7 linked regions of the Homo sapiens genome follow. The protein of the gene in region 1 purifies or fractionates together with the protein of each later gene. This does not show direct contact. Each region holds a gene or a part of one and is shown in the gene's direction. Other genes may lie near its edges.

Region 1 (4,516 bases):
TGACTGTGGTTTTGGTCATAAATCCTTTATGCTACATCAGAGTGAAAGAAATAATACCCCATGAGGAGTCCTGTATACCTTTCCACCTGGCCTAACTTTATGCCTAAGGCACCTATATTAGGCCTTGATCTGGAATCTGCTACAGACCCAGTTATTTATCATGATACTTTGTATCTATGACACAAAGACAAATCATCATAGTGGTCACTGAGATGGAAGCACATTTTTGCTTCTATAGTGGACATTGCTGTTGATAGCCCATGCATTTTTCTTTTCATTAAAGTACTTTGGGAGATCCTGTAGCATAGGATTTGGGGGTCAAATAGATCCCGAGAATGAATATCAGCAATGTGGCTTATTAGCTGACTTAGTGATTCTTTGTGGAGTTGTGAAGAATAAATCATCTATGACAAGTCCCCAGCATAGGTCAGCTCGCAGGGAACAGTGGGGACCAGTAGTAAAGGCCATTCTGGCTTGAGTATTAAGGGGCAGGAGATTTCCTCTGAATATAAAGAGGAAATATGACCCTGTTCGTGTATGAAGACTATCCCACACTTATTTCTTGAGATACCAGTTTTTTATTTTTCCGTTGGTTCTTCCTTGTCCTATTAGTAGCCACAATAGGGAGATGGGGCAAGATTTGGCACTCGTATATATTTCTTCTGTAATCTTCCTTAGTTTGCTGGGATCCTGCTCCCTACGGGTTTACTCTCTAGACTCACTGCATAAGACGGAGGAATGATGAAGTAGAAAATACAGGCATATGGCAGGAGAACTTTCAAGGACTTTAATTTTGTGTCAAGTCTATAAAGACCTTTTCCTAATAGCTGTTGTGTTTGCTAAGACTTTCACTCTTTGTTTTTTGTTTTTTTTTTTTTGGTCTAACTGGGAAAGATGAATGTGAATCTACTATGTTTTAGGTTATATTCATTTTTACAATCTTTATATAACAAGATAAAACAAACTTCATGGATAGCATAGATGGCAAGAAACATGGCATAGTGAGTAGAGTGTTGATTTTACAGCACAATTTAAATCCTGGCTCTGACGTTTACTGGAGTTCTGGGTCGGCTAAAGTTTAACTAAAGATGCAGTTTCCTCTTGTAAAATGTTAGTATTAATACTAGTCTTACTAGTTTTGCATAGTTAGTAGTGTATATAATATATACTAACATATACTATATATGCATATGCACACATATATACACATACATATACACACACATACACACAAGCATGTGGTATATGTAGCATATGCCGGGGACATAGTAAATGCTAAAAAAAAAAGTTGCTTAAAATATGATTCATAGAACATGAAAATCACGATGTAATTATAATTAGGTATATTTTATGAACTCAAAATCACATTGCAACACGGAGCTAAAATACAAGGTCAAGCGCGGTGGCTCATGCCTGTAATCCTAGCATTCTGGGAGGCTGAGGCAGGCGGATTGCCTGAGCTCAGGAGTTTGAGACCAGCCTGGGCAACACAGTGAAACCCCATCTCTACTAAAATACAAAAAAAATTAGCTGGGTGTGGCCATGTGCCCTTGTAGTCCCAGCTACTCGGGAGGCTGAGGCAGGAGAATTGCTTGAACCCGGGAGGCGGAGGTTGCAGTGAGCCGAGATCGCACCATTGCACTCCAGCCTGGGCAACAGAGTGAGACTCCATCTCAAAAAAAATAAATAAATAAAAAAAAAGAAAGAAATACAAGGTATACTTGTATGTATTTATGTACATATGTATTATTAAGATTTATTCTACCTACTCCATTTTTGGAAGAAAAAATGACTGTTATTGTAAAAGTGATACTGTCTCAGTTTTTTAAAAAAGTTAAATGAAAAGGAAAGAAATAAAGAAAAAGTCATACCAAATGTCCCATCAAAATATAATCACCGTAAGCTAATTATGAACATCATTCTAGATTCCTCTCTAGAAATATATGCCAAAAGAAGAGTCGATAAAATGACTGATAGTTGCATATGGACAGGCAGAAATAATTTTCTAAAACTAGGATGATGATGATATGCTAATTTAAGTAAGAATAAGAAAATATAAGATTGTCAATGCGACAAAAGAAGAAATACATAAAATTTAATGAATTGCTAATAGATAAATGTTTCTTCTCAAAGATATTTATTCCTGAAGTTAATGGAAAAGATTAAGAAAAACTTTAAGATGTTGAATTACACTTATTTTACCAATTACAAATTTCCGTTTTATAAGTATTATTGACTTTCTCTAATGATAAATGAGAAGCATATTTTCACTTCTTCCCACCTCCTTGTTTCTTAGATCCTGGTTTACATTTCATTTCACTTATTATATTATACTTATTATATATTATAATTTATTATATTCATTATATTATAATTATGTTTGTGTTGTCAGGGTTGTTGATATTAATGTTAAATTATGTAATTTCATTTTAAACATTATTTTCCTATTTAAATGTTTATTATCTGTTTTGTTATCTGGTTTCCTTTACCTCTGAATTCCTTGATTTGATTGACTCTAATTACAGTTTATCATTTTTTTCCTAAAGTAGGTCCATGCACTCTATTCTTTGAATTTTATATACAATTGAGAGTATTTGTCTTTTACCTTTATCCTTGAAGGACAACTAACCAGATGCAGATTCTGTATTTTACTTTTTCTCTCAGAACATTATAGATATTGTGTGTGCTCTGTAAAATTCTAAGGCAAATTGATTTTCCCAAATTTCATGAATTGTTTACTTCTTTATCCTTGAAATTAAATTATTTTGCTAAGATATATTTGAATTTCTTGTCTAACTCTATATTTTGTCCTGCGTAACTGTGCCCCTGTTTATGACTTCAGTTAGGCCTGTGTTCTGGTGACATAATGTATATCTTCTGAAGTCTAAATCTGTACAGTTGATCCTTGAACAACACAGGTCAGGATTGCCTGGGTCCACTTGTATGTGGATTTTTTTCAATAAGTATTTGGAAAATTTTTGGAAATATATAACAATTTGAAAAAACTCTCAGATAAACTGCATAATCTAGAAATATAAAAAATCTAAGAAAAATATATGCCATGAATGCTTAAAATCTATGCAGGCACTAGTCTATTTATGGCTTAATAGACTATCTTTTTGCTAAGGCTTGCAGTCAACAGTAGACTATTAGTAGTTAAGTTTTGGGGGAGCAAAATTATATGCAGGTTTTCAGGGGCAGAGGGTGTCAGTACACCTAACCCCAGGTTGTTCAAGGGTCAGCTGTATTTTCGATTTTCTATTGGGTGTTTTCACCAAGATATCCCAAAATATCTCAAATTAAGTATGTCTAGAAACACATTTTTCTTCCTTCCATTTTCCCATCCGAGGTCCTCCGAGCTGACACATCTTTTTCTTATTCCCTCTCTCCATGGATAGCAGCACAACTTTACTTACCTGTACAAGGTGAAATTTGTATGGCAGCCTTGATTTCTCCCTCTTATAGTCAATGTTCAACTGTTGGTTGATTCTACTAAACTAATATTTCTTGAAGCCATCAGATTCTCACCATATAATAAAATATGCCTATTGCTTAATAATTTGTTAAATTTCCACAAAACTATTTTGAAGAAAGATTTAATCTCCAGTACCTGGCATAATGGGTGATGCATTTTGATGTTCAGTATTAATGGAATAAATAAAAATCACTTCCCAATCTGACATGACATAATGGGACATTATACAACAGCTTCTTATTTACCACCACACAAGAGCTTTTTAGTTTTATCTACATCTATATCTATCTGTCCAACTGTCCATCCATCCAACTATGTGTTTTAATTGTGATAAAAAAAACACACAACATAAAAGTTACCATATTAATCATTTTACATTGTAGACTTAAGTAGTGTTAAGTATATTCACATTGTCTTGCAACAGATCTCCAGAGCTTTTTCATCTTGCATAACAGAAACTATATTATACAACAGTTCCCCTTTTTCCTTTCTCTCCATCACTTGGTGAAGTGCCATTTTAGTTTCTGATTATATGAATTGAACTACTTTAGATGCCTCATATAAGTGGAATCATACAGAATTTGTCTTTTTATAACTGACTCATTTTACTAGCATAATGTCTTTAAGATTCATCCATGTTATAATTATATGTGACAAGATTTTCCTCCTTTTAAAGGCTGAATAATATTCCATTGTAGGTATATGCCATTTTGTTTGTCCATTCATTAGTTGATGGCCATTTGGATTGCTTGTACTTCTTTTATTGTGAGTAGTGCTGCAATGAACACGAGTGGGCAGATATCTCCTCAAAACCCTACTTTCAATTTTTCTGGATATGTACACAGAAGCAGGTTTGCTGGATCATATGGTAGTTCTAATTTTTTGAGGATCTCCCTACTAATAATAATAATTTGAAACAAAAAGTCCCTTTAATCTTCACAATAGTCCTATGGTATTAACACTTTTTATTATACTTATGTGAAGATTATGGTTTACATTAAGGTGAATTTCTAAAAATCACACAGCTTGGGACAAGAAACC
Region 2 (3,441 bases), on another chromosome or scaffold:
GCTGTGGTGGAGACGGTGTTCTTCCTGACGTCGCGCACCAGGGCGCTGCTGCGGCGCTTCCCTCGCATGCTGCTGGTGGACCGGCTGCCGGGGCTGCAGGGCGCGCTGGATCTGCTGGCCGTGCTGTGCGTGGACGGCTCGGGCCGTGCGCGCCAGGCTGCCTGCTGCGTGGCGCGCCCGGGCACACCGAGCCTGCTGCGCTTCGCGCTCGCGTCGCTGCTGCAGAGCGCGCCAGACGTCAAGGGCCGCGTGCGCTGCCTCACCGCCGGGCCCGAGGTGGCGGCGCAGTTGCCTGCAGTGCGCCAGCTGCTGCCCTGCGCGCGCGTGCAGATCTGCCGCGCGCAGGGCCTGGAGACGCTCTTCAGCAAGGCGCAGGAGCTGGGCGGCGCCGGCCGCGAGGACCCGGGCCTGTGGTCGCGCCTGTGCCGCCTGGCTGGCGCGTCGTCGCCCGCAGCCTACGACGAGGCGCTGGCCGAGCTCCACGCCCACGGCCCAGCCGCCTTCGTGGACTACTTCGAGCGCAACTGGGAGCCCCGCCGCGACATGTGGGTCCGCTTCCGCGCCTTCGAGGCGGCCAGAGACCTGGACGCGTGTGCCCTGGTGCGAGGCCACCGCCGGCGACTGCTGCGTCGTCTCAGCCCCTCGCGTGGCGTGGCGCAGTGCCTTCGCGACCTGGTGGCCATGCAGTGGGCCGACGCGGCCGGGGAGGCGGTGCCCGAGGGGCCCGATGGCGGGGGGCCTTGGCTGGAGGATGAGCCAGGGAGGGGAGCCCAGGGGGAGAACGAGAGGGTGAGGGGCCTGGAGACAGGCGACTGGGGAGGGGCTCCGAAAGAAGGAAGTATTTGGAGGGGAGCCCAGATGGAGAAGGAGTGGGCAAGGGCACTGGAAACCAGAGACTGGGGCGGGGCTCAGTTCGAAGGTGAGAAGGGGAGGGCACTGCAGATCAGAGATTGGAGAGGGGGTCGGTTGGAGAATCAGAAGCCGAGGGGACTGGAAGGGGGTGTCTTGAGAGGGTCGAAGTTAGAGAAAGGGCACCTGAGAGGGCCAGAGATTAGAGACTGGAGGGGGCCCCAGTTGGAGGGTGAGAAAGATTGGGGACTGGAAGGTTATGTCTGGAGGGGGTCCCAGTTGGAGGACCAGGCGCTAAGAGGATTGGAAGGGTATACCTGGAGGGTGGCCCAGCTGGAAGATCGCAGGAGTACCACCGACCTGAGGGGGACCCAGTTTGACTATGAGAGGGTCAGGAGTCTTGAAGGAAGCCCCTGGAGGGGGGCGCAGCTGCACGATGAAAGGGCAGGGGGACTGAGAACTGCAGAATGGAAGGGGCCACAGTCAGAAGTAGAGAAGGGGAGGGGGCTGGAGGTCAGAAACTTGAGGGGGATCCCCTTGGAGAAGTCCCTGGAGTTGGCCCCTGAGAACGGAGACCAAAGGGGACCCCAGTGGGAAGATGAGAGGAGGAGAGGGCCAGAGATTGCAGAGGAGAGGGGAGCGAGGGTGGGGGTCAAAAGAAGAAGGGGCCTGGAGGATATAGTTCTGGTCCAGCTGGGAGACACGAGGGTCACAGGCATGGAGAATGGAGATGGAGGGGGAGCCCGGTCCGTGGGCCCCAAGAGCCGAGCCGGACGAGGGATGGAGTGGGGAGACGCAGGAGGGCGGTGTCTAGGGCTGGGGAATGGAGTCGTGTCTGGCACCCCGGTGGGGACTGTATTGGAAGGCAGCCCAGAATGGGCAGCGGCGAGGAGTGAACACCTGGCTGCAGGTGACGGCCTGCAGGAAGGAGGCGAAGATGGCCCCAGGGAACCAAAGAGGCTTTGCCGACCCCCGGGAGAGGAGGAGGTGGACTGGGAACCCCTGGCCAAATTCCGAGCAGCCTGCGGGCCAGAGCTGGCAGACCTGGTGGCTGAGGAGTTGGCCTTTGCTAGGCAGCATGGGACCCGGGGTTTCCACTGGACCGGAGCTGGCTTTGCCCTTAAGGACGGCACCTCGGACTTCTTCCTGGATGGGGCCCTGACACGCTGCAGCTGCTCAATTCACGCCGCCCGCCGTCTGCCCTGCAGACACCTCTTTGCAGCGCGCCTCCTCACTGGGGCTGCCTTATTCCACATGGACCTGCTCAGGGATTGCTGGGGGAGAGCCCCAGAGCCCTGACCCTTCATGCCTCTGCCCACCACCCTCCACCAGGAGGGTCGGAGGGCATTCTTCGATCCCAAAGATAATAGGGCTGAGGCCAAGGAGACCGTTGCAGTCCCCCTGGCCACCTTCTGGGTCATCCAGGGACCTCCTCATGGCAGTTTGCCTCTCTGGGTCCAAGGGCAAGCTGTAAGTGGTCTCTGAGGTCCTGGAGCCACAGCTTGGGAAGGTGTTGATGGGCAGGGTGGATTCTGAGGGCTTCCCTCTGGAGAGGAAGCATGTGATGAGAGGTGTAGACAGGGTCAGGCTGGGACAGAAGGAAGGAAAGGGGCAGAGCTGGGGGGAGGGGGAGGAAGCGATCATATGGGGAGTGTCTGGCAAGAGTAGACTGGCCAGTCTAGGGAGTGCAGCGGGGAGAGGGGAAAGGGAGAAAGTACAGAAGACAGATGAAGGAGAGGAGGTAAGCGAGAAAAAATGGAAAGGGGAGCCGGAAATGGAGGAGAGAGGACAAGCAAAGAGACAGAAATGAAGACATGAGGAAAAGCTGGGGGAAGCAGGAGAGGAAGGGACGGGATGTAGGAGGGGGAAGAAAAATCGGAGATGAGACAAAAGAAATGTGTGGGAGACGGGTAGAGACGAAATGCAAGGGGCGTGGTTTTGGTTTTTCTCCAAGACCTGGAGACATCGACCCCCATCGCCTTCTGAAGAGAGAGGGAGGGCGGGCACTGGGGGTCAGGAGAGTCTCCAGCAGGGGAGGGGAATTGTTTGGACTATTGTTCTTCAGGATTGGAATAAAACAATCTTATTTTGGTTTCCGTGATGAGTTCTTGGCTTCTGGGGTTGGTTGGGAGTCCCAGATCCAGGGAACAGTTGAGATGGTCCAGCGTTCCTTCATTCTTTCTACCGACAAGGCCTCCTGGGGCCAGATGGATAGAGGAGCCACAATGAATTCATCTCCATAGCAACTCAAGCTTCCTCCTCCATCATCTGGACCAGTGCGTCCCAGTGGCAACTTCTTGACATGAGTCGATTCTACCTTCAAATGACTGACTCATGCCAAATGTCCTGGCCACAGAATGGGCCTGTGACCCAGTCCTGGTCAACGAGTCTGCTCAGGTTGAGGTGGGAGGCTTTTTTATTTTTATATTTTTGTAGAAACAGGGTCTTGCTATGTTACTCAGGCTGGTCTTGGACTCCTCGGCTTAAGCAATCCTCCTGCCACAGCCTCCCAAAGTGCTGGGATTACAGGTGTGAGCCACTGTGCTCAGAACTAGGAAGCTTTTTTTTTTTTTTTTTTGAGTCTTGCTCTGT
Region 3 (4,516 bases), on another chromosome or scaffold:
GCTTTCTCCTATCTCAGTAAATAGAATGTACGCTCGGGTTTTACACCAAGACATTCCATTCCCAGGGACAAGCAGGAGACAGATGCCTTCCTCTTATCTCAACTGCAAAGAGGCCTTCCTCTTTCATGAATCCTCGTCAGCACAGACCCTTTATGGGTGTCGGGCTGAGGGAAGGTAAGGTCTTTCCCTTCCCACGAGGCCACATCTCAGGCTGTCTCAGTGGGGGGAAACCTTGGACAATACCCAGGCTTTCTCGGGCAGAGGTCCCTGTGGCCTTCCGCAGTGCATTGTGTCCCTGGGTACCCGAGACGGGAGAATGGCGATGACTTTTACCAAGCATACTGCCTGCAAACACATGTTTACCAAGGCACATCCTGCACAGCCCTAACTCCATTAAACCTTGAGTCAATACAGCACATGTTTCTGTGAGCACAGGGTTGGGGCTAGGGTTACAGATTAACAGCATCTCAAGGCAGAAGAATTTTTCTTAGTACAGATCAAAATGGAGTTTCTTATGTCTTCCTTTTTCTACATAGACACAGTAACGGTCTGATCTATTTTTCTTTCCCCCACACTTAGCTGCTGCTGTTGCTGTTATTGTGGTTGGATTAGTATCAGTCATTTTCCTCCATTCTTTTAATATGCCAGAGTACTTACTCTCTGCTTCCCATAGTCCTCGTGGGATTGCCATTGTTTGTGTCATCTTCAACAGCTTCCCCATAGAAGGCTTTTCTCTCAGGCACAATTGCATTGTCAAAAGGCAGTATCTGCCTCCCCTTTGAGCCCTGCACGGAAGTCAGCCCAAAGGAGACCTAGTTGATTCAGACCTGGATCTCTCTGCACATTGACTAGAGACTGAGTGACAGGTTCTGATCCTATGCGACAACACAAGGCCAATAGCATTACTTCTGTTTGACTTTCCAGATGTTGGTGACCTTCAAGGATGTGGCTGTGACCTTTACCCGGGAGGAGTGGAGACAGCTGGACCTGGCCCAGAGGACCCTGTACCGAGAGGTGATGCTGGAGACCTGTGGGCTTCTGGTTTCACTAGGTAATGACTCACCTCTCATCCCTGAGGAGGACCCTAACCCTGATTCTTGGCCAGGCAAAAAGGTCACTGGAACTGCCCACCTTTCTCTTGACAGACCTTTCTGTTCCCACCTCTTCCTGACTGGTCTCCCTTTGTCTGCATCAGAGATTGTCGGGGTAGAAAATGTCCTTTTAACACAAACCCTCACTCCAGTGCTCAGCCCATTCTGAGGTCCTTAATCAAGATTGCATAAGAAGGAAGCTGATTGGCCATCCTGGTGGGGTCAGCTGTGGCCACAGCCCTATTAAGCAGGGGCCATGGGTGATGGGCTGTTCTTAGAGAAAGGGGTGAGTCAGGCAGCCCCCCAGAAGACATTTGTCCTCAGTGCCCCTCGGATATCTTCCTAAGCAATACAATCTCTGTAAAAAGGCATCTGGGTGCCTGCATGGTCATTAGTTGTTTTCTGATGCTTGATATCCATGCTCTGTTGATCCAGGAGGTGTTTTTAGAGGGTACACAGGAATGTCCTCAAATGGCATGGTTTGATACCCTGATAAAGCCATTCCTTTTACTTTCTCTGTCCAGCACGCTAATTCTTGTCATAAAAGTCTCATCAGCTGGGTGTGGTGGCTCACGCCTGTAATCCCAGCACTTTGGGAGGCCGAGGCGGGTGGATCACGAGGTCAGGAGTTCAATACCAACCTGGCCAAGATGGTGAAACCCCGTCTGTACTAAAAATACAAAAATTAGCTGGGCGCAGTGGTGCGCGCCTGTAATCCCAGCTACTCAGGAGTTTGAAGCAGGAGAATCGCTTGAACCTGGGAGGCGGAGGTTGCAGTGAGCCAACATTGCGCCAGTGCATTCTAGCCTGGGTGACTGAGCAAGACTCCGGCTCAAAAAAAAAGAAAAGTCTCAGATCAGCGCTGAGTCTTTCATTTTCCTTTCACTCCCCCAGTGCAGTTCATTTCTTTTTTTTAACAGAGGGGACAACCTCCAACTTAGCCCTAAGAAACATACAAGGGTTTCCTGGGACTTAGTGGCATTGTTTTGATTTTGTTGTGTTGTGATTGCAGACTTCTATTTGTAGGAAGGGAAATTGACTTTCTCACTTACCAGAGCAAAACAAGGTTCCCTTTTAGAATACAATATTTAACAAAAGTGGGTCAGGATAAAGAAGTTATTAGAATTGATGGCACACTCTGAGTTCAGTTGGGAAGGTGGACATCAATCCATAGATGACAACTGAAATAAGTTCTAGAAAGAAAAATGAGGGGAATTTAGGAATAAATAAGCAGGATGTCATAACCTATTGTGGGAGTTCCAAAGAGGGCATCTCAGGAAGTGACAGTGGAGCTGAGACCTGAAAGCTGAGTAGGAGTTAGCTGGATAGAAGGAGGTGGAAGAGGGTAACAGTGTTCCAGGTGGAGGAACCAGCGTGTGAAAAGTGACAGGGAGCTCAGCTCTTGGGAGAGCCAAAGGATCATCTGATTCACCTTTCCCACAGCCCTGTCCCAGAACTCAAAGCCAGGCATGTAGCACACATTGGTGGACCTTACTGTGACATGTCTGAAGGAATCCTGGGCTATGGTTCAGAATCTGCCAGTCGATGTTTCTGTGGATCCTTGTACCTCAGTCATTGGTCTTCTATACAGAATCCTCCTGTCTTTTACTCACCACATCTAGTGGAAAGCATTTGGCTGCATATAACAGAAAACCAGATCAAACTGGCTTCACCTGGAAGGAAATTCACTAACTCGCCTGATGAGAAGCCTGAGGTGTGGTTGGCTCCAGGCTTGTTCGGTGCCGCAGCCCAGTGACGCCATCAAGGATGTCTTGGTTCTCTGTTCCTTCTTCTTGGTTCAGGCTTCTGATTGTCCTCAGGCTGGCTCCTCATAGGGATGCTGGGTGCTGCAGCCTTGACTGGGGCAGCAGGCCCCCATGTTCAATCCATCCTCCCACCTTGGAATAAATGCTTTCTTTTCACAATGAGAATCCAGCTTTGGTCACCTGCCTAATGAAGACTCTTGCATTACCAATTTATTTCAACCACTGGTTTTTCTTTTCCTTTTTTTTTGAGATGGAGTCTTGCTCTGTCATTCAGGCTGAAGTGCAGTGCCATGATCTCAGCTCACTGCAGCCTCTGCTTCCTAGGCTCAAGCAATCCTCCCAACCTCATCCCCTTGAGTAGCTAGGACCATAGGTGCACACCACCATACCTGGCTAATTTTTTATATTTTTGGTAGAGACGGGGTTTCACCATGTTGGCCAGGCTGGTTTAGAACTCCTGGCCTCAAGTGATCCTCCTGCCTCGGCCTCCTATAGTGCTGGGATTACAGCATGAGCCACCATGTCCAGCCTCAGCCAGTGGTTTGCAGCCCCATCTGGGCACCAGAATTTTGGGGGGCACATTTTGGAAGTACTGATGCCCAGGTCTCACACGAAGAAATTTTGTTTCATTTGGTTTGAGGTTGGAATCACGCATCCCCAAGTGGTTCTGAAAGCACGAGGTGTTTGAGAAGCAATGATTTAGATTTGTTAGAAAATGCCTCCTGGGGCCGGGTGCAGTAGCACCTTGGGAGACTGAGGCAGGAGGATCACTTGAGGCCAGGCACTCGAGACCAGCCTGACCAATATTGTGAATCCCAGTCTCTATTAAAAATACAAAAACTAGCCAGGCATGGTTTTGCATGCCTGTAATCCCTGCTACTCGGGTGGCTGAGGCACGAGAATCCCTTGAACCTGGGAGGCAGAGGTTGCAGTGAGCCGAGCACTGCACTCCAGCCTGGGCAACAGAGTGAGACTCTGTTTCAAAAAAAGAAAGAAAGAAAGAAAGAAAATGCCTTCTGGAGGAAGCAGCACACCTTTGCCGTGTCCCATGGCTGTCAAAGTGTTGTGTGCCTGAACAACGTTGGCTTCCATAGACGGAGGTCATGGGCAGTGGGTGTTGTGTAGACAGATAGCACTACCCTCCATGGCAGTTGTAGCCCAACAGTGGGATTTGTGCCTGTCTTTTATCTCCTTGGCTGCCATAATAAAATGTCATGGATTGGGTGGTTTAAACAACGAGAGTTTATTTTCTTATGCTTCTGGAGGCTGAGAAGTCCAAGATCAAGGTGTCGGCAAATTTGATTCCTATTGAGACCTCTCTTCCTGGCTTGCAGATGGCTGACTTGCTGTGTTCTTACAAGGTGGAGGGACAGAGGAGAGATCTCTCTCTGTTTTTATGAGGCCATAATTTTATCAGATTAAGGCTCCACCCTTGTGGCCTCATTTAATTTTAATTACCTTCTAAAGATCCTGTCTCCATATACAGTCACGTTGGGTGTTAGGGCATCAACATATGATTTTTATGGGGAACACAGCTCACTCAGAGCAATGCCCTTGATTTTCAGGGCTCACATCAGCATTTTGCTTACTTTGGGAGCAGCTGCATTCATGTCTGGACCCTGTCATGAAGTCCTAGGCAAGATGGAGAGACTTTCATTT
Region 4 (4,516 bases), on another chromosome or scaffold:
GATTTTATTATCACAATAACCATGTAAGGAATTACTGTTGTCCCCATTTTACAGATGGAAAAACACTGAGGCTCAGAGAAGTGGAATGATTTGCCCAGAATCATGCAGCTATTTAAGGGGCAGAGCCAGGATTTAAGACAGTCTAGTGCTACAGTGCACATTCAAGCTCCCCCTCCTCTGCAGTGCTGTCCCTTTCCTTAAGGCCTAGTTGTTACATGGCTGACCCACGGTTTAGGTTATAGATCCACCTCCATCCTTTCTCGGATCTGCTTCAAGCCTGGGCCCAGATGCCTGGTGTGTGAGGGCTCCTTGAGCCTCCCAGGAAGTGCTGATTCTCCTCCAGGTTCCCTGCTTCCTGTTCATCTGTACAGGGCTGCACCTCTGGTGTGCCGTTGGCTAATAGCTAGGCTGCCACACCTCCCCTGGATTGTGAGTCCCTCAGGGGCTAGAGCCTTGCCTTATTTATCTTTGAATCTCTACTTCCACTCTACAGCTGCAGTTTTATAGCCCAGGAGGGAATTCATTTATATAGGCAACAAGTATTTATTGAATGCCTGCCTGGGGTGGGGACTGTCGAGGGCAATGGAGTCGTAGCAGCAGACATGACTTGCAGGAGTTTCCTGCTCTCTTAGAGCTGGTATTCCAGTGGGGGATGAGGATAGCAGGCAGGGGTCGGTGCAGACAGTAAGCAGGGGATTTCAGGATATGCTAACAAGAAACTAGCTGGTGTAACATGGCATGGATAGGGAGGGCAGAGGAGGAGGAGCCAAGCTACAGGGGGAGACTGCTCCAGGTAGGGAGGCTCCTCTCAGGAGGTGAGGTTTCAGCGGAGACCGGAAGTATAAAAGAGAGTGAAGTGTGTGGACACCTGGGTACAGAGCATTCCAGACAGATGAAGAAGCTAGGGTATAAGTCTGGAGATGGTTATAAAGCTGCCACCTGTGGAGAATGGCAGGGAGGCCAGGGCGGGGAGGGCGGTGGAGGAGAGGGGCTGGCGAAGTTGGCAGGGAGCAGATTGTGCAGGGACTAGGAGGCTGCGGGCGGCATCAGCTTCTATTGTGTTTGCAGCGGGGAGCCACTAGAGGACTTTGAACTGGGGACTGGTTTGATCTGACTTGTTAGAAAAGGAAGGCTGGAGGGGCAAGAATGCAAGCCGAGAGGAAAGGTGGGAGGCCGCTGCAGTTATCTGGCCGAGATGGTGTGGCTCAGACTGGGGTCGAAGCAGGGTAGCTGAGAGTCCTCAGGAATTTAGGGCGTATTTTGGAGGAGGGTCCTTTTTTCAGGACTGCTGCTGAATTGGCTGAGGGTGGGTTAGAGTTCAGAGGGGTGGAGGCAGCTTTGGATAATTGGTTGGGGAGTATGCCCTGTGGAGGAGCTCTTTTGGCAGAGACCTGAAGGATAGGAGGTAGCCGTGCGAAGGTCTGAGCACAGCCCGAAATGGGAATAAGCTGGATATGTTCAAGGAACAGCAAAGAGGCCAGGGGCCGGGACATTGTGAATGTTGGGGGCTTTGTAGGCCAGATAAGAATGGTAGGTTTTACTCTAGTAGTGGAAGCCATTGGAAAGCTAAAAGCAGAAGAGTAAAGCTATCTGCCTTTTAAAGTATTGCTCTGGTGGCAGTGTGAGGGGACACCAAAGGAGAAGCAGAGGGCCTGTGTTGTGACCCCGTTACTCCCGGAAGAGTGAGGGGTGGCTTGGGTTTTTGGGGAGAGAGCCATTTGAGTTGATCCTTCAAGAGTAGTCCCATGCCATTGGATCCAGCAACCCCGCTGCTGGGTACAAACCAAAAGAATTCAAAGCAGGGACTCAGTAGGGTATTTGTATACTCAGGTTAATAGCAGCATGTTCGCAATAGCCAAGGGGTAGAAGCAACCCAAGTGTTCATCGGCTGATAAATAGGTAAACAAAACTTTCATACAATGGAATATTATTCAGCCTTAAAAAGGAAGGAAATTCTGCAGTATGCTACAACATAGGTGAAGCTTGAAGACGTTATGCCGAGGAAAATAAGCCAGTCACAAAGACCAACACTGTATGATTCCACTTGTGTGAGGTTCCCAGAGTAATCAGATTCCTAGAGAGATAAAGAATGGTGGGTGCCAGGGGTTGGGGAAGGGGAAATGGGAAATCAGTGTTTAACAGATATGGAGTTTCAGCTGGGGAAGATGAGAAAGTTCTGAAGATGGATGGCAGTGATGATTGTACAACAACATGAATGTACTTAATGCCACAGAATCATTCATGTTAAGATGATAAATGTTATGATATGTGTATTTTACCACAATTAACAAAAAACATAATCTTTTGAAATCGGAGTGGAGGTCAAGGCTGTCTCAGTGAAACAGAATGGTCTCATAGACTGCTGGCGTGAAGGCAGCCACCTGGCTTTCTCTCCTGCTCTCTGCTCCTGGACCTCTTGCTTGAGGGTCTTCACTCGTGACAGTGTCCAGGACATAACTGTTTTCTTTAATGAGCTGGGCCTTGAGAAGGTAGAAAGCAAATTCTACCCACATTCACTGTAGGGTGTCTGCCCGAGGTGGGTAGTTCTGATCTTGCTCTTGCCTCTTCCAACCTCTCTAAAGAATGCTTTGCCCTATGACAGGATGCTCACGAATTATTCCATGTCATTACCTCGTCATTGGAAGATGAGCGAGACCGCCAGCCTCGGGTCACACATTTGTTTGATGTGCATTCCCTGGAGGTAAACCATTAATATTTCCAACACGTTCTGTGCAGCTTGTGCATATTTAATAAGTATAGGGGAGGCAAGTGTAATCTTTGTACAACTTTAAAAGTAAGATTCAGTAAAAATCAGTGGTGGGAATGAGGCCAGGGGAGGGTCTTAAAACTACATGCTTTGCAGTTGGTGATCTGATTAGGGATGTCAAGGCTCTTTCAAATGATTCATTGCTGCAATTTGTGTTGGCTTTGAGAATAAAGAATGTGTTATTTTTTCCTGTTTAATACAGGGGAACAGGGGCCATAGGAATGCTAAGTGAGCCCTCATTTCCCTGTAACAGTATAAATATCGGAGGAGTTGACAAAAGTTAACCAGTAAGGATGAAAATATTCTGGAGAGAAGAAATATGTTTCTATTGCATTTGATGAAAGAATATTCATAGTATCCAGCCAGATAGGCTAATTGAGGCTACCTTTAGAAACCTGAGCTTTGTTAAAAGTTGATTTTTAGTGGTGTAATCAACGTAGAAACTTGTAAGGTTTAGGGGTGGGGTGAGGGTGGTGAAAGGGATTATAGTAAGGTTTTCAGTCTGTTTTTTTTTTTTCTCCCCTACAGCAGCAGTCAGAAATAACTCCCAAACAAATTACCTGCCGCACAAGAGGTAGCTGTTTTCCATTGAAATATAACACATAAGATGTGGACTTTTAAGATATGATAATAATTTGCTTGTTTTAAAAAGATTTTTTTCTGGTGACATACAGGCCAGCTTGAAGTGTGATGTGCTTGCAAAGGAACTTGTATTTTGGAAATAGCTTTAAATAGATTCTCTTGGTGTTCCCTTGCACCCCAGCCCAGCTGACTTTTCTTGAAACTGGCTTATTTGTACTTCAAACAAGGGCTTTCTTTTTACCTTTTTGAATTGATCCTGGGAAGAACATAATGAGCTGAATCTGTCGTGTCCTCAGCATTTCCAGTGCTGCCAAATTCTATTGCATATTACCACAGTCATCCTTAGGAGGAAATTGTTGTTTTCTTAAGACTTAAAAAATAAGATTAGCATATTAATTCCTCTGTGTAGTAATAGGAACAAATATTTTTTGAGCCCATGCTGTTTGCCAGGCATTGCATTATCTCATTTAAGCCTCATAACAACTCTACAAAGTTGATGATACTGGAGTTAATGGGATAATAACTATCCCAATTTTCCGCACACTGAGGCTTGTAGAGATTAAAGGCATTCCCAGGTCAGGTAGTGAATAAGAAGCACAGCCAGAGCTGATCCCTGGGCTGCACAACTCCAGAGCCCAGGTTTCTCACTTATGTTCTTTCCATTAAACCCCATTCTAGCCAAAGAAAGGCCTAGTTATTCAGAACTTGCTTATTCTGTTTATTTCAGAAGATTTTATCTCGCTTTATGGAATGTTCACTTGTGGTATCCTTCTTTTGACATCTCAAACATTTTAAGCATATGTTTGTAAAAAGACATTATTCAACACAAATTCCTTTTTAAAATGTGGCTCTACCCATTATACAGAAACCGTATATAAAGATAGATCTGTGTAAATTCTCCTATGAAGGAATGGGATGTCTTTTGGATGGAAGTCAATGAGGAAAGCTATTTCAATGTACTTTTCAAGAATATTTTTTCTTAAGAGGTAGTTTCTACCACATGCTAGAAAGGAAGATGAATGTTGAGCTTGGTGCCAAAGGGCTAAAAGTGACATATCAAAAAACTTTTTGCATTCCAGGGTCACCTCACCCTACATCCAATCACTGGAAGTCTCAACATCCTTTTCATGGAAGACTCACTAGTAATATGGTCTGCAAACACTGTGA
Region 5 (4,461 bases), on another chromosome or scaffold:
AGGAAAAAAAAAATGCCTGCCTAGCTATCCCTTCAGGTTGGGTTGTAAAGGTCAAAATTATAAATATCACAGCATTGTAAAGTACCATGTAAGTGGTAGATGTTATTCTAAAGGCTATATAAAAATTTGGCCTAATTTTTATGTAGATACTTCTATATGAACTACTTTTCCTATATAGATAGTTCTTATGAACTTATTTTTAGGAGGTGAGAGACATTTATTTTAAGTGATGAAAAATAATATTTTAAAATATTTTGAAATAATCATCTGTATCAGATTGGCAAACTGTGGCCCATGGGCCAAATTTGGCCTGCTGCCTGTTTTTGTAAATAAAGTTTAATGAAATGTAGTCATGCCCATTTATTTACATTTTAGAAACAACAGCAGAGTTGAGTATTTGTGTGTATTGCACTAGAACAGCATAATTGAGTAGTCGCAACAGATACATTATGCTCCACAAAGCCTAAATATTACTATCTGGCCTATGACAGAAAAGGTTTGCCAAACTCTGGTCTATTCCATTGGATATAATTTCAGTTGTTTTAATTCATATATCCAAGGCGGGTGGATCATCCGAGGTCAGGAGTCCGAGACCAGCCTGACCAGTGTGGTGAAACACCGTCTCTACTAAAAAAATACAAAAATTAGCTGGGTGTGGAGGCAGCTGTCTGTAATCCCAGCTACTCAGGAGGCTGAGGCAGGAGAATTGCTTGAACTGGGAGGTGGAGGTTGCAGTGAGCCAGGATTGCGCCATTGCACTCCAGCCTGGGCAACAAAAGCAAAACTCGGACTAAAAAAAAGAAAAACATCAATTTTTAAACATGTATTTTGTAGTATATAAGTACTACAAAATAGTAATACAATTTTGTATATAAATACTACAAAATAGTAATACAAAATTCACTATAAATAGTGAATTCAAGCCGATTAACTTGGTAATCAGGAAACCTAGTTTCTAGTCTTGGTCTTCTTACTAACCAGTTTTATAACTTTGAGCAAATAACTTAGCCTTATGTCACTTTCCTTATTTATTAAATAAAAGAATTAGTCTAGGTAAGTTTTTCTCAGTCACTGGTTAGTGGATTTTCAAGGCAAATGTTTACAGCCTGTTCCCTCCTTTCCTCAGCTCCCTTCCTCTTCCCTTTTACCCCTTCTTTCCTCATTCATTCTTGAGCTCCCTGCTGTGGAATTTGATAGTTTACCAGACAGCATTATAACTTGGGCTAGGAAACATTAGAGACCTAAGATTTCTTTCAGAGTTAATATTCTGTTCCAAGATGAAAATCCACTAGTATTCGTTGGGGGCTCTAAGTTATGTATCCTATACAGTTATTTAGGTATTTCTAATAAATAATTATTTTAACCTAGCAATTATGTTAGCTAGGAGCAGAAAGTTAAATCTCTTAAATTCTTGTATTCTTAGATGATCCAGTATTCCTGGAAGAAGCAGGGAAAGCAGAAAAAATTGTGATTTCCAGATCCACAAGCCCAACTTTCAACAAACAAACAAAGAGAGTTAGCTGGTCAAGCTTTAATTCTTTGGGACAGTATTTTACTGGTAAAATACCGAAGGCAACACCTGAGCTCGGGTCATCAGAGAATAGTGCCTCTAGTCCTCCCCGTTTCAAAACAGAGAAGATGGAAAGTAAAACTGTTTTGCCCTTCACTGATAAATGTGAATCCTCAAATCTGACAGTAAACACATCGTTTGGATCATGCCCTCAATCAGAAACCATTATTTCATCATTAAAGATTGATGCCACCCTTACTAGAAAAAATCATTCTGAACATCCGCTCTGTTCTGAAGAAGCCCTGGATCCAGACATTGAATTGTCTCTAGTAAGTGAAGAAGATAAACAGTCCACTTCAAATAGAGATTTTGAAACAGAAGCAGAAGATGAATCTATCTATTTTACACCTGAACTTTATGATCCTGAAGATACAGATGAAGAAAAAAATGACCTAGCTGAAACTGATAGAGGAAATAGATTGGCTAACAATTCAGATTGCATTTTAGCTAAAGACCTTTTTGAAATTAGAACTATAAAAGAAGTAGATTCAGCCAGAGAAGTGAAAGCTGAGGATTGCATAGATACAAAGTTGAATGGAATTCTGCATATTGAAGAAAGTAAAATTGATGACATTGATGGTAATGTAAAAACAACTTGGATAAATGAACTGGAACTGGGAAAAACTCATGAAATAGAAATAAAGAACTTTAAACCATCTCCTTCCAAAAATAAAGGCATGTTTCCTGGTTTTAAGTAATAATACTTAACTCTCAAGCTAAGTAAAAATATGTCATCATGCTTATGTTAAACTCTGTTGTAAGTAATAATTTGTAAATTGAATAAGTGGCATACTTTTTAAAAAACTATTTTATGTTCAGAAATGTAAATGTTATTATTCTTGAGTTTTTGGGTTTTTTTTTTTGAGACAGAGTCTTGGTCTGTTGCCCAGGCTGGAATGCAGTGGTGTGCTCTGGGCTCACTGCAACCTTCACCTCCAGGTTCAAGTGATTCTCCTGCCTCAGCCTTCTGAGTAGCTGGGACTACAGGTGTGCACCACCATGCCCAGCTAGTTTTTGTATTTTTAGTAGAGATGGGGTTTCACCATGTTGGCCAGGCTGGTCTCGAACTCCTGGCCTCGTGATCTGCCCTTCTCTGCCTCCCTAAGTTGCTGGGATTACAGGTGTGAGCCACAGTGCCTGGCCCATTCTTGAGTTTTGATAAAGTAATTCATACAAAGTACTGTCCTCAAATAAGTCTTCCTTAGCTAAATGCAATTTAAAATTATTCAAAGATCCTAGGGCACTTCTAGTTTCACGTAAATATTCATATTAGGTGGTTCTCTTCATCCATTTGTTTTCACACTGATACATAAAAATTAACAGCAGTCTAATCTAGTGACACCTCAGTCATATTTCGCTATAGATTTTACCTCAAATCAGTCCAAGACTTTTTCAGAGATCACCATTTGTCTTGAAAGGTTTATTTCGTTATTAAACTGCCTACTTATAAGTAATTAAGAGAAATTAAGAAAGTAGTATGCATTTTTAATTGAAATTGTTTTACATTCTTTGTATAATAAACCTAAAACCAAACATGTCATAAACAAATTGACGTAAAGATATAAAATGCCAAATGAAGTATTCCAAATTTTCTATTCTAATTATTTAGCTTCACCATCATTGTGGAAAAAAATACTAGATCCTGCTTAGTATTATATATTTTTCCTAGTGGATCAGTGAGTAATAAGTACCAAACACTAGACTAGAAGGTAATTTCTACATTGTTTAGAAAGGGTGAAACAATTTATCCCCTCTGGTATTGTTCTAGCATAAGCTTTAGTTATACAATGATTAAGATAGAAAACTTCATATATAAATTTGATAAGCAAACCCACATTTATAGCTGCAGCTAAAATATGTTTCCTTAGGGCACAGTAATCCTTTCTGTGAATTTTGACCTTGTTTGTGTTTTTGTGAATGAAGCTATATGTCTAATCAAAAATGATTATAAAAGAGGCTCATCTCTGACATCATTCCAAAAATACATTCATTGATCTCTTTTTAAGAAACATCTGTTATTCACTGGGCATTGGGACTTTTTGTGAGTAATTTGAATTGAAATTTTATGAGCTATCCAAGAATTCTGTATGGTCTATTATTTTCAAGTCAAAATTTCCAGTAAGGATTTACTTTACATTTCATTTGGATAAATGAATCATTATATAGGTATGTCTTTGCTTCCATTTTGAGACATTTAGATTTTTACAGCCTGTTTCTATAGCATTTGATGTTACAACTCTAAGCGTAGTTCAAAGACATTTAAATTGACAAGTTACCAGTTAAAGAATTTAGAATATATTAGATCCCATCTAGTATTATATATTTTTTCTAGTTGATCATTGAGCAGTAAATACCAAATACTCGATTAGAAGGTAATTTTTACATTGTTTTGAAAGGGTGAAACAATTTATCTCCTCTGGTATTATTCTTAAACCACAGATAGGGATAGTAGGGTAGTGAAACGAATAAATACCTGGTAGAAGACAAGAGACTTGGGCTCTACACCTGGCTCTGCCACTGATTTGCTAAGTCATATTGGCAATCACCACACCCTTCAGGGAATTAGTTTCATCTGTAAAATGCAGCGGTTAGTACTATAAAATCATACAAATTTCTTTGTGCTTTGAGAATCTATAAAGGAATGTCTGTTGATATTCTGAGTCGATTTTCATTTGCTTTTGTTCCAGAACGGTTAAAATAAAGCATATTATTTCATTTAAAAAGTAAAGTGGCTCTTACTCATTTACATTTAGGGAACGATGGTGACGTGGTTTGGCTATGTCCCCAGCCAGATCTCATCTTGAATTGTAGTTCCCATAATCCCGACGTGTTGTGGGAAGGACCCAGTGGGAGGTAATTGAATCGTGGGGGCGGTTACCCTCATGCGGTTC
Region 6 (4,516 bases), on another chromosome or scaffold:
GCTGGGCATGGTGGCTCATGCCTATAATCCCAACACTTTGGGAGGCCTAGGTGGGCAGATCGCTTGGGGCCAGGAGTTCGAGACCAGCCTGACCAACATGGTGAAACCCCATCTCTACTAAAAAAATACAAAAATTATCCAAGCGTGGTGGCACATGTGGGTAGTTCCATCTACTCCGGAGGCTGAGGGACGAGAATTGCCTGAACCAGGGAGGCAGAGGTAGCAGTGAGCCGAGATCGCGCCACTGCACTCCAGCCTGGGCTACAGAGTGAGACTCAGTCTCAAGACAAAAGAAAACAGATTACAGAACCTGGGAGATATTTGTCAGAACCTGGGAGATATTTGTCAGAACATAGGAGATATTTATTTGTCAGAACCTGGGAGATATTTATTTGTCAGAACCTGGGAGATATTTGTCAGGACCTGGGAAATATTTGTCAGAACCTGGGAGATATTTGTCAGAACCTGGGAGATATTTATTTGTCTCTTGAACTTTGCATAACACTAAGGTTTCGGTATGATTTGATTCAGATTATAATTGACCTTTTGGCCAATATCACACCAGTAATATGTCCTTCTCTGTGCATTGGCACGTGATAAAAATCTGTCCTATTACAGTTGATATTAGTTTTATTCAGTTGTTTAAAGAGCTCCCTGACAGATTTTCCATTGTGGAGTTTATTTTTTTCTCTTTTAAGTACCTTGAGGAGATTTACTAATTAATGTGCATAAATAATCACATTTAATCTGAAAGGTTTTGCTTCTTAGATTCTTTTTGCATATGCCTTGCTTTAGAAGATGAAGAATCTCATCTCTCTTTATGGTTTAGAAAAACTGGGATAAACCCAAGCTTGCCACTTACAGGATTTTTGACAAAATATTGTCCTTGGGCCCAAAGGACTGGCATCACTGGTGAGCGCGTTAGAAATTCGGAAACTCAGCCTTGACCTCCGATTTCCTGAAGCAAAATCTGCACACTAGTTTATTGGACACATGAAAATTGGAGAGGCAGCTTCTAACTCACCATGACTTTTCTGCCTGCGAAATATACACAGCTTATTCATGTGACGTAAATGTAGCACTCAAAAATGGACATGCCTTTGTTGATGCCCTTAATGTTATACTTGTTATCAACCAGAAAAGTATTGTATATACACTGCTTATGTGGCTCTCAGGCAATTCTCTTTCCTCAGAGTTAGAGAGTATTCTTCTGCTAAGAATTACCTTATTGTATAATTTCAGTCACTTGTGTAAGTCAGAACCAGTTCTCTTCACTCGCTCATTTCACCTCGAATCAAGTATTTGTTATTGTTGTTGTTTCTTCTTCAGACTCTGTTGACGTTCAGGGATGTGGCCATAGAATTCTCCCTGGAGGAGTGGAAATGCCTGGACCTCGCTCAGCAGAATTTGTACAGGGATGTGATGTTGGAGAACTACAGAAACTTGTTCTCCGTTGGTGAGGATAACTTCAATACGTAGTTCCTCCTATGCCCTAAAGAGTTCCTTTCGTTCCTCTGCGGAATGTTTTTTGGGAGTTTCTGCGTTGCATGAATGAGTTTCAGATCCCTGCTTTTAAGAAAAACATGGGGAATAGTTGATGTAAAAAAAAAAAAAATCTTCAAAATGTGGTTCATCTTGACATAAACCTTCCTTTTTTTTCAGCTGATCTGTATCTTTCACTCTAGTGACAATTCCAGAAATTCAGTGGCATGAAATATTGTTGCCCACAACTTAAAGTCAAATTTCCACCACCAATTTTTTATGTCAGCAGTACTGAGTGGTGAAACTAAGAACCCACAGATTTAAAATACTTACTGAATATTCTAAAGGTGATGTCAGGAAGCATAATTTTGGGATTAATTTTCTAGAATCTTATATAATGTTCACTCTACTAAGCACAGTACAAGGTTGATAATTGGAGAATTTCAGCAAGAGTAATGTCACTTTTTTCTAATAAAACAGGTCTCACTGTCTGTAAGCCAGGCCTGATCACCTGCCTGGAGCAACGAAAAGAGCCCTGGAATGTGAAGAGACAGGAGGCAGCAGACGGACATCCAGGTGGGTGGGAATGAACGAAGCAGGTAACCCAGGTGAGAGGTCCAGAGGTCGAGGAGGAAGCCAGACCTTAAAATGTGGTTTGAGAAGCTCTGCCCTAGTGGAGATGGTTTCTGAGAGCCTGGGTGTCTTTCTCTTGCTGTACCCTAGGAGCGTCTTCTGTCTCATTCTCTCAAATTTTGTATAGACTCTGCTTCCTGTTTAGTGATCTTCCTTTATAAAGGTTACAGTAAAAATCAGAGTCCTCCTCCTGACGAGTAAGGGCCTGTGTGGTCTCATGGCGTGCTCCGCCACTGCTTTTGGGAACATGCCTGTACCTGCCTGTTTTTGAGGAACTCTGTTAAATGTTTTTTGATTTCCTTTGCATCATGTCTGAAGTGTGCGAGAGGCGTGGTGATGGTGATTGGTTCAGAAATCCCAGAAGTCCCGTAAACAGATGTTGTATGCTTTCTGCTTTATGATTTCGTATCCTACAGAGGTTTCAAATGGGAGTCTACAGAAATGTATACTCAGCAGTTTTCTCCGAACACTAGGCATCTGCCCAAATATGAGATAATCTAATGTTATTTTACTTCAACATTTTATTTTATTTTTTTTAGTATGAGCTGAGGTTGGTCATTTAAACTTTATATTCCCTAACTCCCAACTGTAATAGTTATAATATTATCATTTTATAATTTCTTCTTTTTTAGTATGAGGCTTATCAGGACTCTGTCATTCATATGTATGTATGTGTGCATATGTATATATGTGTGTATATATGTGTGTATATATGTGTGTGTATATATCATATATGTGTGTATATATAATATATCAACATATCCTTTTGAAATGATAGGATTTCATTCTTTTTTATGCTGGAGTAATATTCTGTTGTCTATTTAAATCATATTTTCTTTATCCATTCATGTATATATACACACACATATATACAGTGTGTCTATGTGGGCATATGTGTAACAGATTATTTTAGAAATAAAAATTGTGTATATATTGTGTACAATGTAATAATTTGATATGTGTATACGTTGTGAAATAATTAGTGCAATCACTTCAAGGAACAAATCTATCACTTCACGTAATTACCTTTTCTTGTAGTGAGAACAGTTAATGTCTACCGTTGGCAAACTTTAAGCATACAAAAGATTATTAATAGTATTCGTGAAGCTACTCATTAGATTCCCCAAACTTACTCATCTTACAACTGAAAGTTTGTACCTTTTGAACAACAGCTCATTTTCCCCAACTCCAGGCCCTGGCAACTGCCATTGTCCTCTGCTCCTGTGAGTTCAGCCACGACAGATTCCACGTCTGAGGGGGAACGTGCAGTCTCTGTCTTTGGGGCCTGGCTGAGTTTATTTAGCAGGATGTCCTTCAGGGTCATCCACGTGGTTGAATGACAGGATTTCATTCCTTTTTTATGGCTGAGTAATATTCTATTGTCTATTTATATCACATTTTCTTTATCCATTCAGCATCCGCAAACGTTTAGCTTGTCTTTATATCTTGACAATTGTGAATAATGCTGCAGTGAACATGAGGGAGCAGATAATTCTTCAAGATGCTGCTTTTATTCCCTTCAGTTATTATATACACAGAAGTGTGATTGCTGCGTTGCAGGGTAGGTTTATCTTTTTCTAACTTTTAAATAACGCCCCCCCACCCTGGTTTTCATAATGACTCTACCAGTTGAGAACTCTGAGCGTTCAGAATTGTTTTTTCTTTACATCCTTATCAACATTGTTAGTAGATTGGCGCAAAAGTAAGAGTATTTCTTACTATTTAGAAGGCAAAAACCACAATTACTTTTGCACAGCCCTAATATGTTACTTATTTTTGATATTAGCCATCCTAGTATCCAAAAGTTTGATTGTAAATTGTCTTTGGTGTCACAAGCTTTTTAGCTTAATGTACTCCATTTTGTTTATATTTACTTTTGTTGCTGTACTTTTGGTGTCGTGTCTAAAAAATGATTGCCAAGACCAATATCAGAGGTTTTCTCTCAGAGTTTTTAAGGATACATGTTTTACATTTTAGGCTTGATTTCAAGTTAATTTTTGAGTATGGTGTAAGAAAAATGGGCTATTTCATTATTTTGATTGCGGGTATTCTGTTTCTCCAGGACCAAGTGTTGAAGAGACTATACTGTCTGTATTGTATCTTCTTCGTGAACTTGTGAAAGATTAGTTAAGTGGATATGCATGAGTTTAATTCTGGGCTCTCTGTTCTGTCCCATTGGTCTCTGCGGCAGTTTTCCTCTCTGTTCGCATACCATCCTGTTCTTACTACTGTAGTCCTAAAATGTCACTTGAAAACAGAAAATATTATGCCTCTTGCCTTGTTCTTTTTCCTATAGATTGCTTTGGCTATGCCAAGTCTATTGTAATTCCATATAAATTTTAGAATTCTATTTTCATTACTGTGAAAAAGGCCACTGGAATTTGATAAGAAGTTTATTGAA
Region 7 (4,516 bases), on another chromosome or scaffold:
TTCATACAATAATATGTATTATTTGTTCAGAAATGAAAGCTGGAACTCTATGCTTCCCAAGCAGTGTCTCTTTGGGGTGTAATTATTTCTCCCTTCTCATTGTTTCAAGGAAAACCAGCATTGGAATCAGCTGATTCAGGATGCTCAGAAGCGTGGTGCCATTATTAAGACCTGTGACAAAAACTATAGACATGATGCAGTGAAGATTCTGAAACTCAAGCCTGTGCTGCAGAGAAGTCTCACTCACCCTCCTACCATAGCCCCAGAGGGGTCCAGACCCCAGGGTGGTTTGCCCAGCAGCAAGCTAGACAGTGGATTTGCCAAGACATCTGTTGCTGCTTCTCTATACCACACACCCTCTGACTCCAAGGAAATTACTCTTACTGTTACTTCAAAGGACCCTGAAAGACCTCCTGTTCATGACCAACTTCAGGACCCACGACTGCTGAAGAGGATGGGCATTGAGGTCAAAGGAGGAATATTCCTTTGGGATCCACAACCCTCGAGCCCCCAGCATCCTGGAGCAACACCTCCTACGGGCGAGCCGGGCTTCCCTGTCGTTCACCAGGACCTGAGCCATATACAGCAGCCCGCTGCTGTAGTGGCTGCTCTGAGCAGCCACAAACCTCCCGTGCGGGGCGAACCTCCAGCTGCCAGTCCCGAGGCTTCCACGTGTCAGAGCAAATGTGATGACCCGGAAGAGGAGCTCTGTCACAGGAGAGAGGCCAGGGCTTTCAGTGAAGGGGAGCAGGAGAAGTGTGGTTCCGAGACCCATCACACCAGGAGGAACTCTAGGTGGGACAAGAGGACACTGGAGCAGGAGGACAGCAGTTCCAAGAAAAGAAAGCTTTTATAGGAAAGCCCAGTGACATGGGCCAGCAGCCACAGCATATTGTAAACTGAAGATGACCAGCTCGTGGGACCATCTAGATAAGCTTGTTTTTTGTAAGGAGTTTGTGTGCTGTTGGAAAACATGGAAAATGCATCCTTAACACCTGAGCCTCTGGTCATCTTCAGTATTTTCTGTCATTTGCAAAAGCTTTCAGAGGGCATTGTGTATCCGTAATAATGTCCTTGAAGTCAGAGACTGGAAATGTTGATCTCTTAGTCTTCTATAGACAAGGAGGTCAGACTGGAGTGAATGTTGTAAAAGTTGAAATGTATATTTGTATAGCAAATAACAAAATCCTTTTAAAATTTAATCTAGTAGACCGCTTTTCTTTCCCCCTGTTTAAAATGTTAATCAGTTTTCAACAGAACAAACTTTATATTACCAAAAAAAAAAAGATGGGAGGAGGGCGGGTCCTTTCAACCATTGTTAGAGCAAGACAGATAATTATTTAACAGCCTAGCTTGGAATAAGCTGAGTTAGTGCTGGTGGGTCAGGTGTCTCTGGCTCTATTAAAAAAAGCAAAAACCCCCCCAAAAACCTGGAGTCTCCTAGGGGACACTTTGGGCAGCACGGTTATGTTAGGTAAAGTCTTGCTGACATGGTGCATTTTTAGATAGAGTGCATTGGCCCAGGGTATTATATTTCTGTGATGAGTTCATTTACCTGTTTCAGTATGCACATAGTTCCCTAGCTAAAATTCCTAATCTTCTTGAGAGAGAAGAATATGGAGTGAAAGAATAATTCTTGAGCTATCATTCAAATGCTCCCAGCATATTGTGAGCCTTGTGTGACTGGTGAGGTACAGACATTTGGTTGCCAAATGCTAGATTAGCGCTGGGTCAGCTGTGGAAGAATCGCCTCAGCTTACAGATTGTCAGACAGATCTAACTAGTTTTCCAGAAAGCCTGGGAAGCTGTGTGTTCAACATTTCCCAAGGGATTCTGATCACCAGGCAGCTTGGGAACCACTGGGGCAGGCCAAATAGAATATTTTGGGCGGGAAAGAAGCACCCGATTTAAAATGAAGCGTAACCAGAGGAGTTCAGAACTGGGAAGAGAGTGGTAGACTTCCTGTGATCTTCAGAAATCATCTACCTGGTAAAAATACATGCTGTTTAGAATATCTGATAGGTGTTTCCAGCTACTATTAGAGGTGATAGTGCTTTTGTGGGGGAAAAAATTGGTCATGGTGAATGGAGATCGAGGAAGCTCGGGACAAGGGAGGGGTGGGCTGCCTGATTTTGTCCAGTTTTCCAAATATCCACGCAGTGAACTGGAGTATCCTAAACATGAGAATGTACAGTTGACAGTTGTAAAAACTAGGGATCTGTAGTGAATGCTGTGCAGCCCCATATCTCATTTGGGGGTAGGAAAATAGCTGAAGATTCATGTGCATTATTTGACATTTCCTTTGTCATCTGCTTTTTAAGCAAAAAAGGGTTTTGTGTTAGAAATTCTACTTGAGCAGATTATAAAGAGCTTTAAAAAACAACTTTCGGTTGCCAAAAGTTTGAGCATTTGATTTCATTACCTGTGTCTCCCTCACTGGTGTCCAGACGGTCAACTGAATACTCCTGAAACCCAGGGAGCAGGTGACTTCCTGGAGTGCTTTGTCCCCAGAGTCAGCCACTGCTTCCTCTGTGGGGGTGGAGAGTTTGTCTTTGGCCATGCAGTGTGCGACAGTTCAGGACGGGTAGGGATGGGTCCCATTCTGTCTGGGTCAAGGGCTCTATCAGCTTCTTCCATGTGCCTTTGGGAAGAAATCTCGTTACTTTAAGTTTGCTTTCCTGTTATCTTGATGAAGTGCCCATTTTAGCAGACACTTGTAGTGCTGACCACTTAGGGAATGTACAAACTCCTAAGCTTCTAAAGGGAGGCATGGCAAAAACGTTGGGGTCAGGATGTCTCTCACGCTGCTCATGTTAATACTATTAACACATGATTTGAGAAATAAGTTTTCTCTAAAATGCATATTTTGCCGCCACACACTGAACAATATTATTTCCAGTGAAGTTTGATGCCTGTTCTTACGTTGTGTTCACCTGTTGGTTCACCACTCAGCAGATCTGATTCTGCAAGAATTAATGGTAGAACTAGATCATCCTTTCTAACAGACGAGCCTGTGTCCTGTGACGGCCTTTCACAGCGGAATGCAGTTGTACCTCACATTACTTTTGAAACTTCACTCGTTCCAGTTGGTACAAGTATTTGCCAAAGCCATTTCCTATGTTCACCGTGGCCCCTCCTGATGTGGCTGTCAGCGCAGCGTTGTTGAACAGGGCTATTCTTTTTACAAGGTGTGAAGTGTGGCTCTTCGCTTCGTCTTTGCCATGGCATTAAAAGAAAGTTCCCTGTCTTCTTTCAATATTAGTTATTTCAAATGAATATGTGCTACTTAAAAGCTTGTTTTGTTTCTTTGTATATAATTTGCCTTGGATTTATTGTGCACAGTTTGTTGAGTTGTATGTTTTTGTGAATTATCAGGAGTAAATTTGACAAGTACATGTGAATAACCTCCTGTAAATGAATTTTATAACAAAAATGTACTGAACTATTTTTTAAAGTTGTGCAGATTAGCAATTTTTTGCTATAGCTTTGACTTTTCTATGCTGTGAATTAATAGCTGCGATTTGGCAAACAGCCCTGTTGTCTTTGTTAAACCCTAAATTTTAAGAGGAAATGGCAGAATTAAAAGCAGAAACAAGAAGATGGACATGGATTAGAGGTTATGTATTATGAAGTAAACTACAAGGTACTAACATCATTTCGTCTGCCATTTGGTTTGCTTTATGCTGAAATTACTTGGTGGGGATTTGTGCAATTCAGATATAAAAAGTTTCATTATCCAGCCCGGCCCTCCTTCCTAGCTCCTTTTGGAATCTTCTCTGTACAGTAATGAGGTGCATTGAGGCCAGCTGTGCTGTTTAGTTACAGACTGAAGTTTGGTCCAACAGAAATATGTGCTGATCATTAGGCTGGAATTGGGGTGGAGGTGAGATAGGAGGAACAGATGAACAGTGACCCGTGAAAGGAGCTGCCAGAAGCACTGGTGGAGGGACAGGGTAGAATTGCCCTTGCCAGGGGTAATTGCTGATGGTTATGGAAGTGGAACACACTTTATAAAACAATAAACTTCAGGAAATGTAGTCAGCTTCCCCACACTTGTGCCTGTTAAAAGGCACTTGACCTCCGCCTCTGTGTCTCCTTCTGTACCCAGAAGTGTGTGCACACAGCCCACTTGGCCTGCTTGGCTTGTTCAGTATGCATACACAAATTACCAGGGAGGGTAAAATGGTGTGTTTGGGACTTAGGGGGAGTAATAAATTTGCCCAATGGCCTGGCGAGAGATGAGTGCTGCATGGTGGTCATTTGTGGAATTGGTTATGCAGCAGCCTTAGTGATGGTTTTTGAAGTCACCAGACATCTCTTTCCTGACCCATCCGCCCCCACAATCGCCCCCACCTCCTGGGTTTCACCATTCATTGAGGAATAAATAATTGAGGGACGAAACTAAAATTTAGCCTCAGCTCAAATAGAATTGATAATGTTGTACAGCACCACAAAGGCAGTTTCTGTACACAAGGGATCCCTCCATGACTCCAAAGACGTGAGTTATCGTCACCCT

Evidence for each region.
Region 2: the proteins of NOL4 (region 1) and ZSWIM9 purify together in Homo sapiens (affinity purification with mass spectrometry; one large-scale study listed by BioGRID and IntAct). This does not show direct contact.
Region 3: the proteins of NOL4 (region 1) and ZNF550 purify together in Homo sapiens (affinity purification with mass spectrometry; one large-scale study listed by BioGRID and IntAct). This does not show direct contact.
Region 4: the proteins of NOL4 (region 1) and USP30 purify together in Homo sapiens (affinity purification with mass spectrometry; one large-scale study listed by BioGRID and IntAct). This does not show direct contact.
Region 5: the proteins of NOL4 (region 1) and BRIP1 purify together in Homo sapiens (affinity purification with mass spectrometry; one large-scale study listed by BioGRID and IntAct). This does not show direct contact.
Region 6: the proteins of NOL4 (region 1) and ZNF195 purify together in Homo sapiens (affinity purification with mass spectrometry; one large-scale study listed by BioGRID and IntAct). This does not show direct contact.
Region 7: the proteins of NOL4 (region 1) and SETX purify together in Homo sapiens (affinity purification with mass spectrometry; one large-scale study listed by BioGRID and IntAct). This does not show direct contact.

Annotation. Positions count from the first base shown.
Region 1 is NC_000018.10:34,214,462-34,218,977, reverse strand, and holds part of NOL4 (nucleolar protein 4), read left to right. Parts: intron 1-4,516.
Region 2 is NC_000019.10:48,194,680-48,198,120, forward strand, and holds the end of ZSWIM9 (uncharacterized protein ZSWIM9), read left to right. Parts: coding exon 1-2,148; 3' UTR 2,149-2,941; downstream 2,942-3,441.
Region 3 is NC_000019.10:57,552,766-57,557,281, reverse strand, and holds part of ZNF550 (zinc finger protein 550), read left to right. Parts: intron 1-924; coding exon 925-1,051; intron 1,052-4,516. UniProt on the Homo sapiens protein: May be involved in transcriptional regulation.
Region 4 is NC_000012.12:109,069,010-109,073,525, forward strand, and holds part of USP30 (ubiquitin carboxyl-terminal hydrolase 30), read left to right. Parts: intron 1-2,602; coding exon 2,603-2,701; intron 2,702-3,295; coding exon 3,296-3,341; intron 3,342-4,428; coding exon 4,429-4,516. UniProt on the Homo sapiens protein: Deubiquitinating enzyme tethered to the mitochondrial outer membrane that acts as a key inhibitor of mitophagy by counteracting the action of parkin (PRKN): hydrolyzes ubiquitin attached by parkin on target proteins, such as RHOT1/MIRO1 and TOMM20, thereby blocking parkin's ability to drive mitophagy.
Region 5 is NC_000017.11:61,681,103-61,685,563, reverse strand, and holds part of BRIP1 (Fanconi anemia group J protein), read left to right. Parts: intron 1-1,423; coding exon 1,424-2,268; 3' UTR 2,269-4,461. UniProt on the Homo sapiens protein: DNA-dependent ATPase and 5'-3' DNA helicase required for the maintenance of chromosomal stability. Acts late in the Fanconi anemia pathway, after FANCD2 ubiquitination.
Region 6 is NC_000011.10:3,368,517-3,373,032, reverse strand, and holds part of ZNF195 (zinc finger protein 195), read left to right. Parts: intron 1-1,329; coding exon 1,330-1,456; intron 1,457-1,962; coding exon 1,963-2,058; intron 2,059-4,516. UniProt on the Homo sapiens protein: May be involved in transcriptional regulation.
Region 7 is NC_000009.12:132,260,579-132,265,094, reverse strand, and holds the end of SETX (probable helicase senataxin), read left to right. Parts: intron 1-109; coding exon 110-856; 3' UTR 857-3,739; downstream 3,740-4,516. UniProt on the Homo sapiens protein: Probable RNA/DNA helicase involved in diverse aspects of RNA metabolism and genomic integrity.